2 linked regions of the Homo sapiens genome follow. The main gene of each other region encodes a partner of the protein of the gene in region 2 in a complex. Each region holds a gene or a part of one and is shown on either strand. Other genes may lie near its edges.

Evidence for each region. The genes of interacting proteins can lie anywhere in the genome.
Region 1: BOP1 (region 2) and PES1 share a complex: the UniProt entries of both Homo sapiens proteins name them as parts of the peBoW complex.

What each region holds. Positions count from the first base shown.
Region 1 is NC_000022.11:30,576,105-30,581,918, forward strand, and holds the end of PES1 (pescadillo homolog), read right to left. Parts: intron 5,541-5,814; coding exon 5,424-5,540; intron 5,305-5,423; coding exon 5,230-5,304; intron 4,998-5,229; coding exon 4,908-4,997; intron 4,598-4,907; coding exon 4,467-4,597; intron 4,075-4,466; coding exon 3,949-4,074; intron 3,832-3,948; coding exon 3,647-3,831; intron 3,200-3,646; coding exon 3,033-3,199; intron 2,895-3,032; coding exon 2,733-2,894; intron 1,026-2,732; coding exon 942-1,025; 3' UTR 521-941; downstream 1-520. UniProt on the Homo sapiens protein: Component of the PeBoW complex, which is required for maturation of 28S and 5.8S ribosomal RNAs and formation of the 60S ribosome.
Region 2 is NC_000008.11:144,288,436-144,296,044, forward strand, and holds the start of BOP1 (ribosome biogenesis protein BOP1), read right to left. Parts: upstream 3,004-7,609; 5' UTR 2,936-3,003; coding exon 2,837-2,935; intron 870-2,836; coding exon 660-869; intron 1-659. Other genes in the region: HSF1 (heat shock factor protein 1), read left to right, coding at 3,323-3,439. UniProt on the Homo sapiens protein: Component of the PeBoW complex, which is required for maturation of 28S and 5.8S ribosomal RNAs and formation of the 60S ribosome.

The sequences.
Region 1 (5,814 bases), on a different chromosome or scaffold from region 2:
TCCTACGCTGGGAGGTACTCAGCGGTTCTGCCAACGCGCCAAGGCAAGCTGAGGGCAGGACCTCACCGCAGACCCACAGATCCTTCCGGTTCTGGCTTTTACCTTCTGGGCCGAGTCCAGCAGGAAGTGATATAAATCAGTTGGTGTTTACCAAGTACTTACCACACACCTGATATTACCAAGTCCATAAGGTCTGAGACTATAAAGTTATCACAGAACCCTCAACACATCCCTTTCAAAGAACAGAATCTCTACCAGTAACTGACACATGAGGAAGCAGGTGCAGAGGGAAAATGCCTGGGTTAGAATGTGAACCATGGTCAGACAGGCTGTGAAGCCCAGGTCCAGAACCTCTGCACCTACCTTTTGGCATCCCTGGACCTGGAGGGGTCCTTGGACATCCAGAGAGCTCTGAGCAGTGCCCAGCTCTGTCTCAGTAAATACCCAGGGCTGGCCCAGCCTGCAGCATAGAGTGCTAGGTAGGCCTCCTCCAACCCTAGGAAGGCTCATGGACACAAAATGCAATTGGCACAAAAGTCCAGTCATTTAATAACAAATGCTCCCCCTACCCTCACCCCATCACAGCACCCTGAGAATCACGGGTCCAACTGTGTGGGAGGGGGCTGTGGAAAGCCAGGATGAATGGGGGCAGTAGGTAGGGGGCTGGGTGGGCCTCTGCACCTCATGTCACTGGCTCCTGGGAGCAGAGAATCAGGCTGGGCACAGAGGCCTCTTCTCTGACCAGGCACCAGCAGGGCAGCTCCATCCAAGGGAAGCGAGGGCTGCCCACTGGCCCAGCCAGAGAGCATGAGGGGTCAGGGCTGGCTGGAGAAAGGAGGAGGAGAAGTGACTCTGGTCCATCACACTTAGGTCCTCTGGCCTGCCTCTGCCACATCCAGCTGCTAGGGGCTGGCCTCAGCCCTGTGAGGGGCCGCAGGCACTCACTCCGGCCTTGCCTTCTTGGCCTTCTTCTCAGACCTCACCGCCTCATCGTGGGCTTTCCGCTTCTCCGCCAGCTTGTTGGCCTGTGAGGGGGAAGGCGAAGGTCAGGCTGAGGTATGTGTAGAAGGGAGGGTGGGGGGCACAGAACTCAAAGCTATATCCCTTAAAAGCAGAGCTTCAAGAAAAGGTCACAAATTCTCACAGGAAAAAAATCTACCTGACCCACTTCATGGTGAGAAAACATGCGCTAGCCCTGCTTTAACAACATTATTTCATGGGCCCACAAATCTCGAGATAAGAGAATCCTAAACTCCCAGAGCTGGAAGGAGCCTTGGCAACTGCCCCATTTCCCTACACCACCTGGGAAAGCTGGATGCCACTAGAACCTTCACCAGGAGCTGGTGGAAAGGGGTACAACAGGAAGAACCTTCTTTCCGGGGTCATCTGACAATATATTTTTAATTTTTTTAAAGGGACAGGGTCTTTCTCTGTTGCTCAGCCTGGAGCACAGTGGCACAATCATAGCTCACTGCAGCCTCAAACGATCCTCCCACTTCAGCCTCCGGAGTAGCTGGGATTGACTACAGGTGTGCACCACCATGCGTAGCCCTTTCTTTTTTTTTTTGGGGGGTAGAGACAGGGTCTCAATATGTTGCCAACGCTGGTCTTGAACTCCTAGCCTCAAGTGATCCTCCTGTCTTGGTATCCCAAAGTGCTGGGATTACAGGCGTGAGCCACCATGCCCAGACCCATTTGACAATAACTATTTCAAAACTGCAGCAATTATGCTTCTAAGAATTTAGCCTGCAGAATCATTAAGAGGCGGGCAGGAACATGCTCAGGGATGTTTTCTGAGAATGACTGAAACTGGAGAACAATCTAATCCCATCACAGGGGACAGGCCAGGTTTTGGATGAGAAGTCCATATTATGGTTAAATGAAAATTACAACTCAGGCTGGGTACAGTGGCTCATGCCTCTAACCCCAACACTTTAGGAGGCCAAGGCAGGCAGATCACTTGAGGTCAGGAGTCCAAGACCAGCCTGGCCAAGACAGTAAAACCCCGTCTCTACTAAAAATACAGAAATTAGCCAGGTGTGGTGGCACACGCCCTAATCCCAGCTACTCGGGAGGCTGAGGCAGGAGGATTGCTTGAACCTGTGAGACACAGTTTGCAGTGAGCAGAGATTGCTCCACTGCACTCTAGCCTGGGTGACAGAGGAAGACTCTGTCTCAAAAAACAAATTATATCTCAAAACAACCTATAGCATGACCTCCCAAACACGGGTCATTATGGGCACAAGAGAAACCTGGGGGCTGTTACTACAGGCTGCTCTATTCCAAGGGCAGGGCTGTGAGCCACTTCTGCATCACTCATCACAGGGTTCCAGGGTGCATGAGTTTGTATTTTTAATTAGCATATATGGCTTCATGAACAAGAAAATACAAAACAGATAGAAGTTTAACAAAGCTCCCCCCCGCCACCCCCGCCCCCAGTCCTTGAGTCTGCCGGGAAGGCTCTGTTTGCAGACCCCAGCAGACTCAGGAAGCCGGATGCGGGGTGGGACGGAAGCCGTAAGGAAAGCCCAGGCCGGAGATGGCAGTACCAAGACGCCTACACTGGCCCAGGTCGGGGGCCCCAAAGGCTGGGCTGGGCCAGGCAGGCAACCTCAGGAAAAGGCTAGGAGAGCCTCAGTCTGCCTAGAGGAGGGCCCCAAGCCACATAAGTTCACCTGTGCAGTTGGGTCTGGTGGCCACACCTGGATCTCAAGTGGGTGGCAAGAACTCACCTCTCGGATTTTTCGCCTCTTGCCAAACATGATCTTCTGGTACAGGTACTTCTCCCGCTTCTTCATCATCATAATGGCCAGGCGCTTGGCCTCACTCTCCTCCTCCTGGGCCAGCCGCTGCTTATCCTCCAGCTTCAAGGTGCCTGCCATCACCCTGGGCTTCTGGGGACACAAGGAGGGTGCTTATGGGGGCAGGTTCTCCCGACCTCCACAGTCCTCTGGCTCCTGACCTTCTAGGCCAGAGCAGGCACCAAGCAGGGCTGCTTCCCAGGCCAAGCCCCGCATTGCAGCTCCCCCTACCTTCCCCTCCATCCTCTGCTCTTCCAGGGCTGCCAGCCGGGCCTCTTCCTCCTTTTCTGAACCAGCCTCTGCATCTTCCTCCTCCTCCTCATTTTCTCCCTCTTCATCACCATCACCTTCGTTGTTGTCGTCCTCTTCCTCCTCCTCTTCTGACTCATTCAGGTTTCCTAGAGAAAGCCAATGTCCTCTGAATGCCCTGGGAATCTACTGTCTCTCTGGCAGGGTGACAACAGGCCCAGGCCCCATCCTCTCTGACCCTGCCGTCTTTAGCCATGGGCAGTTCAGGGATGTCCCAATTGTGGCCCTCTCTTGCACCTCCCCACAGCCCAGCTGCCATCAGAGGAAATTCCAAGACCCCCAGTCCTGAGCTCTGTCGCCTCCAATGTAAACTCTGATGACAATGCAGCATGTTCTTCTGCTCAGTCATCCTGAACGTCAAATAACACCTGACCCCAGGAGGTAGATGTCCCTTCTCCTAAGCCTTATTCTACAGGTGACTTCAAAGGGCTTTCTGCTCCTACTGCCTGTTCCCTGGAGCTTTCCACCTTGGCAGCTAAGGGAAACAGCCAGCGTGGGCCCAGGGGTCAAGGCCAGCCCAGTCCCATCCCGCTCACCTGGGTCCTCTCCCCGCTGCAGAGCCAGCAGCTTCAGCTTCTCAGGTGGAACGTAATCTCCTTCCTTCTCGGTCACAAAGGGTGAAAGGTGTGGGGGCAGCTGCACCCCAGAGAAGTACTCTGCCACGGGGAGAAGGAGCCTGGCGTTCACTGAGTCAAACACCCACTGGGGCTGCACGTAGCACCTGGCGCAGAGTGGCAGGCAAAAACGAGTCACAGAGGGCAACTCAGGGTCCTGCTGCATCGCAGGGCCTTTGAGACAGGATACCCAGAAATCCGGACGAGGACCCTTGAGGGCCTACCTGCCAATGACTGAGGTCTGCTGCCCAGGCCGGTCGACAATCTGATGGGTGATGCGGGAGTCTGTGACGTCATAGGTGGCCCCAATGCACAAAGATTTGTCCCAGGACACTTCCCCACCAAAACTCCTACAGGGACAGGGAGAGCCCACACGGGTACACAGACATGAGCTGCCTGTCCTGAGACTCAGCTCCCTGGGACCTGCTGGCCACCCAGCCCATAAACTCACCCTCTTAGGACACAATTACCCCCTCCTCACCCCAGGATCCTTCAATCCTGGCTCAGCAGAGATCTGCCCACTGCCCATCCTTCTGTGCTAAGCTAGTAATAAAATGACGGCAGTTCCGCCCTCTGCTGAGCACTTCCTATGTGCTCAGTGCGGTGCCGAGCACTTTCCACACACTGTTTCATAAGAAGTGGAAACTGACACCATCCCAATGTTACCGATGGGCACCAGGGCAGGACCCAGACCAGAGCATGGCCGAACCAATGCTGTCAGCGGGCCCTTGAGCCTCCCTACCTGATGATGAAGGCCAGGGCCTCACGGGGCACCTCTCGGTTCAGGAAGAACTTCAGGCCCTCAAAAAGCTTCTTGTGCTTCTCCTGCGCCTCCAGCTCCTTCCTGCGGTCTTCCTCCTGCGCTGACATCTCCTGTTGAGAAAGGGGCCAGGCCTCGCACCACCAGGGCTGCCCACCCCCACTGGAGGGCCAGGGCTGGAGATAACGTCCACTCCAGCTTCCTTCTAGATCCTGGATCCTGCCTTCAAAGGAAACTCCAAGGCCCCACTCCTGAGCTCTGTTGCCTCCTATGTAAACTCTGATGACAATTCAGCCCATTCTTCTGCTCAGTTGCTTTGACCATCAAATAACACCTAATTATAGGATGCAAATGTCCCTAAGCTGGGAAACCCCCCACACGACCCCTCCCAGCCCTCCTGCCAGAAGGCAGTGCAGTGCTCACCCCATCGGTGGGAAACTCATCCACCTCGGCCTCCTCCTCTGTGGCAGGCACCACCACGCGGGCCAGGCTGGCACTGAGGGCTGCCAGTTTCTACAGGAGAGAAGGGGGCTGCTTGCAGTGGGGGACCTCATGCGGGCATGTGGCCAGGGTGGGGAGGGGCAGCAGTGACAGTCCTGGGCATCAGCAGGTGTGGGTTCCAAGGGCAGGCTGAGACCACCCACCTAGCCATAACCACCCCCACTCTGAACCAGACCCCCAGAGGTGTTGGGGACAGAGACCACTCCCTTGGGAGATGCCGGATGATGCTCCTGGAGCCTCTCACCTCCATACAACTCTCGGAGTCCAACGCGTAGGTGCCCTCACCGGCCTTTGCCTCTGCTTGGGCCTGACCCTCGAGCTAGTAGGCAAAGGGAAGGTCAGGAGGCAGAGGACAGCCACAGCCCCTCGCCTCTGTGTGGACAGAGAAGGGCTGTGGCCCCTGCACGGCGAGCAGAAGGCACTGGGCTGGGGTCCTACCTTCGGGGGATAGTGGAGGTTGAGCAACTGGTAAAGGCGGAAGTTGACAAAGCCCAGCAGCGTGGTGTAGAACTCGGTGAAGGTGGCCATGACCCTGTAGTCCACGTCTGTCGGGTGCTGGGGAACACAAGAGATGCATGAGCAGTGTGGGTGCAGGGATGGGGGCAAAGGAGGGACAGACAACCCACAGAGTGGAGGGTGTCTGACCTACCCAAAGACCCCAAGCTCCTCAAGAAGGCTCTGCCCTTAAGGCGCTGCCCTAGGGAAGGGGTGGCATGGATCTTCCCACCAGGGGCGTTCCGGCCACAAGTGTTCCCAGCCACAAGTGAGGCTCTGGATAGGGGTCCCAAGGGTTAGACGCATCCTGGAAGTCAGTGCCAGACCCCCATAA
Region 2 (7,609 bases):
GAGAATTACTTGAACCCAGGGGATGGAGGTTGCAGTGAGCCAAGATCACACCACTGCACTCCAGCCTGGGCGACAGAGTGAGACTCTGTCTCAAAAAAATAAAAAATAAAAAAAAATAACAAATGCTGTGTTTTAGTTAAATTATGCTTTTCTCCTGTTGTTCTCAATAAGAGTAGGGTGCATCCTCCCCCACCATCGCTGCAACAGGTACAATGTTAAACCCTCTACCCGTCGGCTGCTCAGGCCCCTGAAGCCCTGTGGGGTCAGGCCCAGCTGGGTTCCGTTGGGGCCCCCATGCCGCCTGCTTGAGCCCTGCCATGCTGCTCAGCTCCCTCCTCAGCTGGGTCCTGCCACTGGATTCCAAGCAGTAAAATCCCCACCTCAAGGAAACCCAACCTGTTGCCAGGAGGGTTGCCCGAGCATCGTCTGACGGGGAAGGGCCTAGGCATGTGGATTTTCAGAGTTCCTGGGAACGGCACGCAACTGGGGATGGAAACCAGCGTCCTAGAGCCCAAGCGTGCCCCAGGTGCAGTGAAGGAGGGACGCCGGCCTTGGGGTTCTGAGGGACGGTGGAGAAGGCAGTACAGTGGCAGTCTCAGAAAGCCCAAGGCCACCTGCACATGGGGGACAGCCCTCGAGGGGGCTCCTCGCTCACCCACCTGCACCTGCTCCTCAGTGGTCTTTTTAATCCCACTGTGGCCCTCGTCATCAAGGGCTCCGTCCTCTCCCTCCTCGTCGCCTTCGTCATCATCCTCACTGCTGTCACTGCCGGAATCTTCCAGGCCTGAGAACACACTTTCCTCGCTGTCGGAGACGCCAGAATCGCTGCCGGTGCTGTGGCTGAGAGGAGAGGTGCAGAGGAGGGGGGGCTGCAAGGAAACACTGGGTTGGTGACAACTGCCCCTCCAGGCATGGGGCACTGAACACTGCAGGGAGAGCTGCCTCTCGCCCCTCCAGCCACCCACCAGCAGCTCCATGTGGCCTCCAGGACCACACCCCTCCAGTCACAAACTTCCACCAAAAGCATCCACCCAACCTGAGCCTTCCTCATCTTCTACCTCCACTGACAAGACAGCCTCTTGCCTTTGCCATCGACATTTTAATTCCTAGCACCTCACAGGGAAGGGGCTTTTCAAGGACAACCTCCTCCTCTTGGAGCTCAGCTCTCATCGCAAAACTAACACTGCTCTCTACCACCCACTGACACTCCGGAGGCCCTGTGGGGTCAGGCTGGGCTGGACTCCACTGGGTCCCTCAGACAGCCTGCCTGAGCCCTCTCCACACCTCACCCTGGCATCCAAGGCCCCAGAGCCAAGAGGTCACTAGAAAAGGGGCTGGGGGCTGGAAGAGAAATGGGTCCCCAAAGGGCTTTTACCACCTGAAGCAGACGCCTCCTCATTTAACCAGATTGGGACCAACGATTGATCAGTAAATTGAAAGGATTGGCTGAAGAGTCACAGGAATGATAGAGACTCTAACCGCAACCACGCACCAACCCACCCACTCCTCTCTCTGAGCAGGACCACAGCTGCCTCTGAGCAGAGCCCTGCTGGCTGCGTGACACCGGCACACACAGTGTTCGGGTCCTTCACTGGCCTTAAAGGGTGGAACAAGAACTTAGACTCTTAGGAAGCAGTTGAAGGCCAGGCACAGTGGCTCACTCCTGTAATCCCAACACTTTGGGAGGCTGAGGCGGGTGGATCACCTGAGGTCAGGAGTTCAAGACCAGCCTGGCCAACATGGTGAAACCATCTCTACTAAAAATACAAAAATTAGCTGGTGGTGGCGGGCACCTCTAATCCCAGCTACTCAGGAGGCTGAGTTAGCCAGGAGGTGGAAGCTGCAGTGAGCCAAGACTGCACCACTGCACTCTAGCCTGGGCAACAGAGCCAGGCTCTGTCTCAAAAAAAAAAAAAAGAAAAAAGAAAGAAAAGGAAAAGAAAAGAAAAAGGAAGCAGTTGAATGCAGAATTCTAGATTTTACTGTTTTCCTAATAGTTTACAAGTCTCACTTAAGGTACGACCTGCATGTATTAGCTATTGCATACCGAGTGTTCACACAATGCCTCTCTCACACAGAGTCATGATGTGTCTTGGTATTCAGTCGGCTACACAATCACAATAACTAGTGGAAATGGCATCCGTGGCCTGGGCGCAAACAACTGGCTCCTGAGGACCGTTTAGTCCAAGGGTGGAAGTCGCAGAACCTGGCGCCTAGAGTGGCCTGCGGGCCATTCAGCCCATGGGAGCCAGGATGAGTTGAATTCGCTTCACAAAGCAATGGGGCAGTTTCAACAACCCAGCGCGGCCGCGGCCGAGGGGGCTGTGAGGGGCTGGCTGTCCATCCCCTCCACCACCCAATTTGATGATCCCCACAACCAAGACAGGGCTGAGCTAGCAGAGAGCAACAGTGAGTTCTAATACAGCAAATGCAGCAGACACTGGGTTCTATTCAGGTTTTCTTATTCTCATGTCTATCCCATGAGCATAAAAACGCAATTAACTAGCGTATACGTAGGTTAAGCATTTACTGGGAGCGCAAGCCGAGCCCTTTTATTGGCAGGATGCACAAATGGAACGGCTGGAGAGGCTGCTGCAAGGGGCGCCCCGTCCCCACTCCCCGCTCCCCCGTTTCTTTGCTTCCCGGACGCCGTCCTTTACCCCGCAGTCCGCTCTGCCTGAGACCCCCCGATAGAGGAGCTGCACCCACGCCCAAGACCGATTCACTGGGCGCGGGCGCCCAGGTGACAGAAGCCGGGCCCACCCGCCCCAGCGCGGCCACGTGCCCGCCGGGCCCTCTAGGGACGCGCCCCGCCGCCCCGCATCGCCACAGTCACCTCCGGCTCGGGCTCAGGCTCCAGTTCGGGCTCAGACCGCCGCTTCTCCGGCCGCACGCTCGGCGCCGCCGTGCGCCCCGCACCCCGCGAACCCGCCATGCCCCACCGCGCGCCGGCCGCCACCCGCACAGCCGCTTCCGACAGCGACCGGGCCGCGTGCGCAGGAGGACGCGCCCCGCCCAGCCCGGCCCCGATTGGCGGGTGGAGGGAAGGGGGTGGGACCAACACGCGCAGGCGCGCGGCTGGGCCGGGGACCAGGGCGGGGTCGGGGCCTGCGTGCTCGCGCCGGGGGTGACGCGGGAGGGCGGCAGCGGCGGCGGCGGGAGCGCGCCCGTTGCAAGATGGCGGCGGCCATGCTGGGCCCCGGGGCTGTGTGTGCGCAGCGGGCGGCGGCGCGGCCCGGAAGGCTGGCGCGGCGACGGCGTTAGCCCGGCCCTCGGCCCCTCTTTGCGGCCGCTCCCTCCGCCTATTCCCTCCTTGCTCGAGATGGATCTGCCCGTGGGCCCCGGCGCGGCGGGGCCCAGCAACGTCCCGGCCTTCCTGACCAAGCTGTGGACCCTCGTGAGCGACCCGGACACCGACGCGCTCATCTGCTGGAGCCCGGTGAGGGCAGCGCGCGGGCGCGGGGCCCGTGGGGACCGGGAGGGAGCAGGGCCGCGGCGGACGGCGCGGGAGGGCTGCGGGGAGGGGCCCTGCCGCACTTCAGCTTACGCGCGGTGAGCCTGCCCTGCCCCCGCCAGAGAAGGGCGGCGGGTCCCGAGCCTGCTCAGACCCAGAGCCTTAAGTTGGGAAAGCGGCTACGAGACCCACACTCGGTTCAACCCCTGCCCCAGCGAAGTTTCCCTGGGATGGGGAGAATGGGGCGTCTCTTGTATTGGGCTTCTGCTAACTGTTGGGCGGTTGCGGAAGTGTCCGCGCTTAGGGCAAGCACCCGGCTTCGCCAGCGGACGCTATGCCCCAGAGGACATCGGCGTCCCCAGGGGACAGCCTACGGGGTGCTGGGTCGGCAACTATTAGGAGAAAGTCAGGACTTGGCACGTGAAGTGGAGGGCGTTGCTGTAGTGGAACAGGAAAGGCAGTGGAAACAGTAAGACGTCATGAAGCTTCAGGTTGATCTCAAGCCCGTTTCCGAATCCCAAATCTGGGTTTCCCAAGAGGAGTTTTGTTTTTCATTCCTTATGGGGCATCTTTATTCGTGTTTCTGTCTTCAGTTGCCTGGCAGCAGGCTTGTTTACATGGTCCGACCCTGCAAGACCGGACAGCTCCGGTTTGCAGAAGTAAATCAGTGATTGTCTGGAGTTGGAGATCAGAATCTGCTGTTCACATCCCGGCTGTGACGTCGTGTCCGGTGAGGGGCAGAGCCACCGCCTGCGGCTGGCAAGTGATGACCTGAAGAAGGGCCACACTGGCCGAGTGGGGTGACTCTTGCTTGTAATCCCAGCACTTTGGGAGGCGGAGGCGGGTGGATCACTTGAGGCCAGGAGTTCGAGACCAGCCCGGACAATATGGCAAAACCCCAGCTCTACTAAAAATACAAAAAATTTGCCGGGCGTGGTGGTGCTTGCCTGTGGTCTTAGCTACTTGGGAGGCTGAGATAGGAGGACTCCCTGGACCTGGGAGGCAGAGGTTGCACTGAACCAAGATCCCGCCACTGCAGCCTGGCAAAGAGTGAGACCCTGTCTAAGAAAAAAAAGAAAAAAAAGAAAGGCCACTGATCATTGGGAGCTTTTGGAGGCACCGTGACCGGCAGGGTGCCACCAAGCATGTGTGGCCTCCCAGGAGCTAAGACCCCAGAGTTCTTCAGGCTCTGCTGAGTGCCTCCCATTTGCACAGCCTCTTTATGCTGTTAGGAATGAAGAAAAGTCTAAACTGAAGCTGCCCCAGGCAGGAGGCCAGGTTTTCTGCTTCTTGGGTTTACTGAGGCTCTGCTTTACCTACAGAGTGTTTGGAAATAAAGAGAAGACTGGAAATCTTTGCTCTTGTTAGAAACACTTTGTGTTTGTCCCGCTGACACCTCTGTGTTGGCCTTCCCATCCCCAGGTCCCATTAAGGCACAGTGCACCTTCCTGGAGGCTGGCTTCATTTCACCATCTCTTCATTCTAGACCTTGGATTCTTGTGCAAAGGAAATACTCCCATGTTTCTGTCTTCTTTTATCCGTCTTTTTCTTTTTTCTTTTTTTTTTTTTTAGACCGAGTCTTGCTCTGTCACCCAGGTTGGAGTGCAGTGGTGCGATCTCGGCTCACTGCGACCTCCACCTCCCGGGTTCAAGCAATTCTGCCTCAGCCTCCCGAGTAGCCAGGACTACAGGTGCGTGCTGCCACACCCGGCTGATTGTTGTATTTTTAGTAGAGACGGGGTTTCACCACATTGGACAGGCTGGTCTGGAACTCCTGACCTCAAGTTATCCACCCGCCTTGGCCTCCCAAAGTGCTGGGATTACTGGTGTGAGCCACTGCACCCAGCCCTTCTTCTTTTTCTTATTCCCCTTAATCCTCAGAAGTTAAGGGGAATAACTCCCCCATTGGGGGAGGGGCATCCGCGATTATCTGGGATATTCTAAGCTTAATCCTACTAGCGTGATCTGTCCTGTCCCGTAATCTGCTTGCTGTTTCTGCTTAAAGATTATGAGGCATGTGGGTTAGGGCCCAGTGTACCCTTTTTTGGGACCGAGGCATGTTCTGGGCAGGGCTTTTGAGCAAGGAAGGCAGGTGTGATGAGGCCCGTGGCCAGCCTCCACTCCACTCACAGGTGCACCACCTGTGGATCTGTTCTCCCTGGGGAGGGATGGGGAGCCAACTGGAATGTGAGTGTTTGGTTCCACCTGGTCAGTATGAAGTGGCAATGGTTGGTGCAGGACGTAGCACTGGGGGCGAGCATGGCAATGAGACAGAAACACTGACTTAAAACTGGAAGGAAGCCCTTCTCCAGGCCGCGCAGGGGGCTGCAGAGCTTTCCGGCGCTGGCTGCCTGGCCTGGAGAAAGGAGGTGATCATCCCATCCTGTGACTTTGAGAGCACTCACACAAGCCCTGAGGACTCCCTGTCAGCAGAGTCCCAACAGGGCACCCTCCCACAAATCTACTGCCCAGGCCCAGCTGGCTCTCGGAGGCCTTGAGAAGGCCCTGGTGCTCTTGCTCTCTGCTGCCTTCTCTGGGAGAGTCTCCTTCTGGCTCAGAGTCTTACCACCATTCTGCCAAGAAAAACCCTCCCTATTTGACACAAGAAGATGAGGCAGAATCACAGGCATGGTGACTAACTCTCAAGGCTGAATAACCTGGGGGAGACCGAGGCCCAGAAACTGGCCAGTAACTTTACTGAGCCTGGCCAGGAATGGGACCAGGTCTGGACCACCATTGCACGTCCCCTCCCTGGCCTGAGATCAGGACTCCCACTGCAGCCACTGGAGGCAGAATGCCGGGTCACTGCCCAGGAGACCCCATTGGTGGGGACTGTGGCAGCTACCCCATCCCTGTGTTGTTTGATTTCCCACCCCCCCCTCCCAAGACCCTCATTCCCATGAGCACCCCACCCACACAGGCAAGGGCCTTGAGGGGACCCAGCAAGTCGTGGAGGACAGCACAGCCTTGGAGAGGAAATGTGTCAGCCACAAGGTTATGATCCCGGGGATCCACATAAGAGCATGGGCGTGCACGTGGGTGGTCCTCCCTCAGCCAGCTTCTCAACAGCTTCTCCCAAAGGTACACCTGGATCCAGTACCACTGAGACCCAAAGACGGGGTTGGGGGACTGAATACCTGGACTGACAGGCACCTCCATAGAACTGAGACCCATGAGACCCGGGACCCGCAGCCTCCCTGCCCCGTGCCCTGGTGCCGGCCCTCAGCCCAGCTTCCTCGTCTGCATGCAGCAGCTCCTCTGTCCACCAGCAGAGGCTCTTCTAGGGCCTTGCTGGGCTGCAGCTGACTCAGGAGGGCAACAGCCTCTTCAGAGAATTTGACAGCATGGAGAACCAAACAAAAGCAGAAAGTGAAGCCTCAGAACTGGGTTCACCATCATCCCAGTTTTTTACAAGCTATGATTTTGTCCCATCTTTATTAACAAGATAAGGAAGTATGAAAAGTAATCTCGACATCTGAGATGGTGAGATTACAGCCCCAGGAGCCACCCAGCTGGCTGAGGAGCCTGAGAACAAGGCACAGCCACATGACCTGTGCCAGACAAATGCTAGAATGATGGTCACGCAGGTTAGAACGAACCCAGGTAGACGGAGGCCTCAGGATCAGGGTGAGGCCAGAGGGGGCACCTGGGTGCAAAATTTAAGGAAGCACTTTTTGTTTTTTAGATAAGGTCTCGCTCTGTTGCCCAGGCTGGAGTGCAGGGCTATGATTGCAGCTCGCTGCAGCCTCTGCCTCCCAGGCTCAAGTGATCCAGTCACCTCAGCTGAGTCACTGGGACTACAGGCTTGCACCACCAGACCTGGCTTTTTTTTTTTTTTCTTTTTAAGGTTTTAGTAGAGACAGGGTCTCGCCGTATTGCCCAAGCTAGTCTGGAACTCACGGGCTCAAGCCATCCTCCCATCTCAGCCTCCCGAAGTGCTGGGATTACAGGCTTGAGCCACCGCGCCTGGCCCTGAGGCATTCCTTTTTAAGACCTACCTGCATTCGGATGGCGCTGGGAGTGGGGGCCTCCTTAGATGTGGGCTCCTGGATGCTTCTCTGTCTTCACCTGGCCCCAGCCTCATGGGTGCAGCTGGAAAGACTCTAGAAGGATGTGCTGAAACCCTGGGGCTCCCTGAGACTGAGTGAGCTGGAG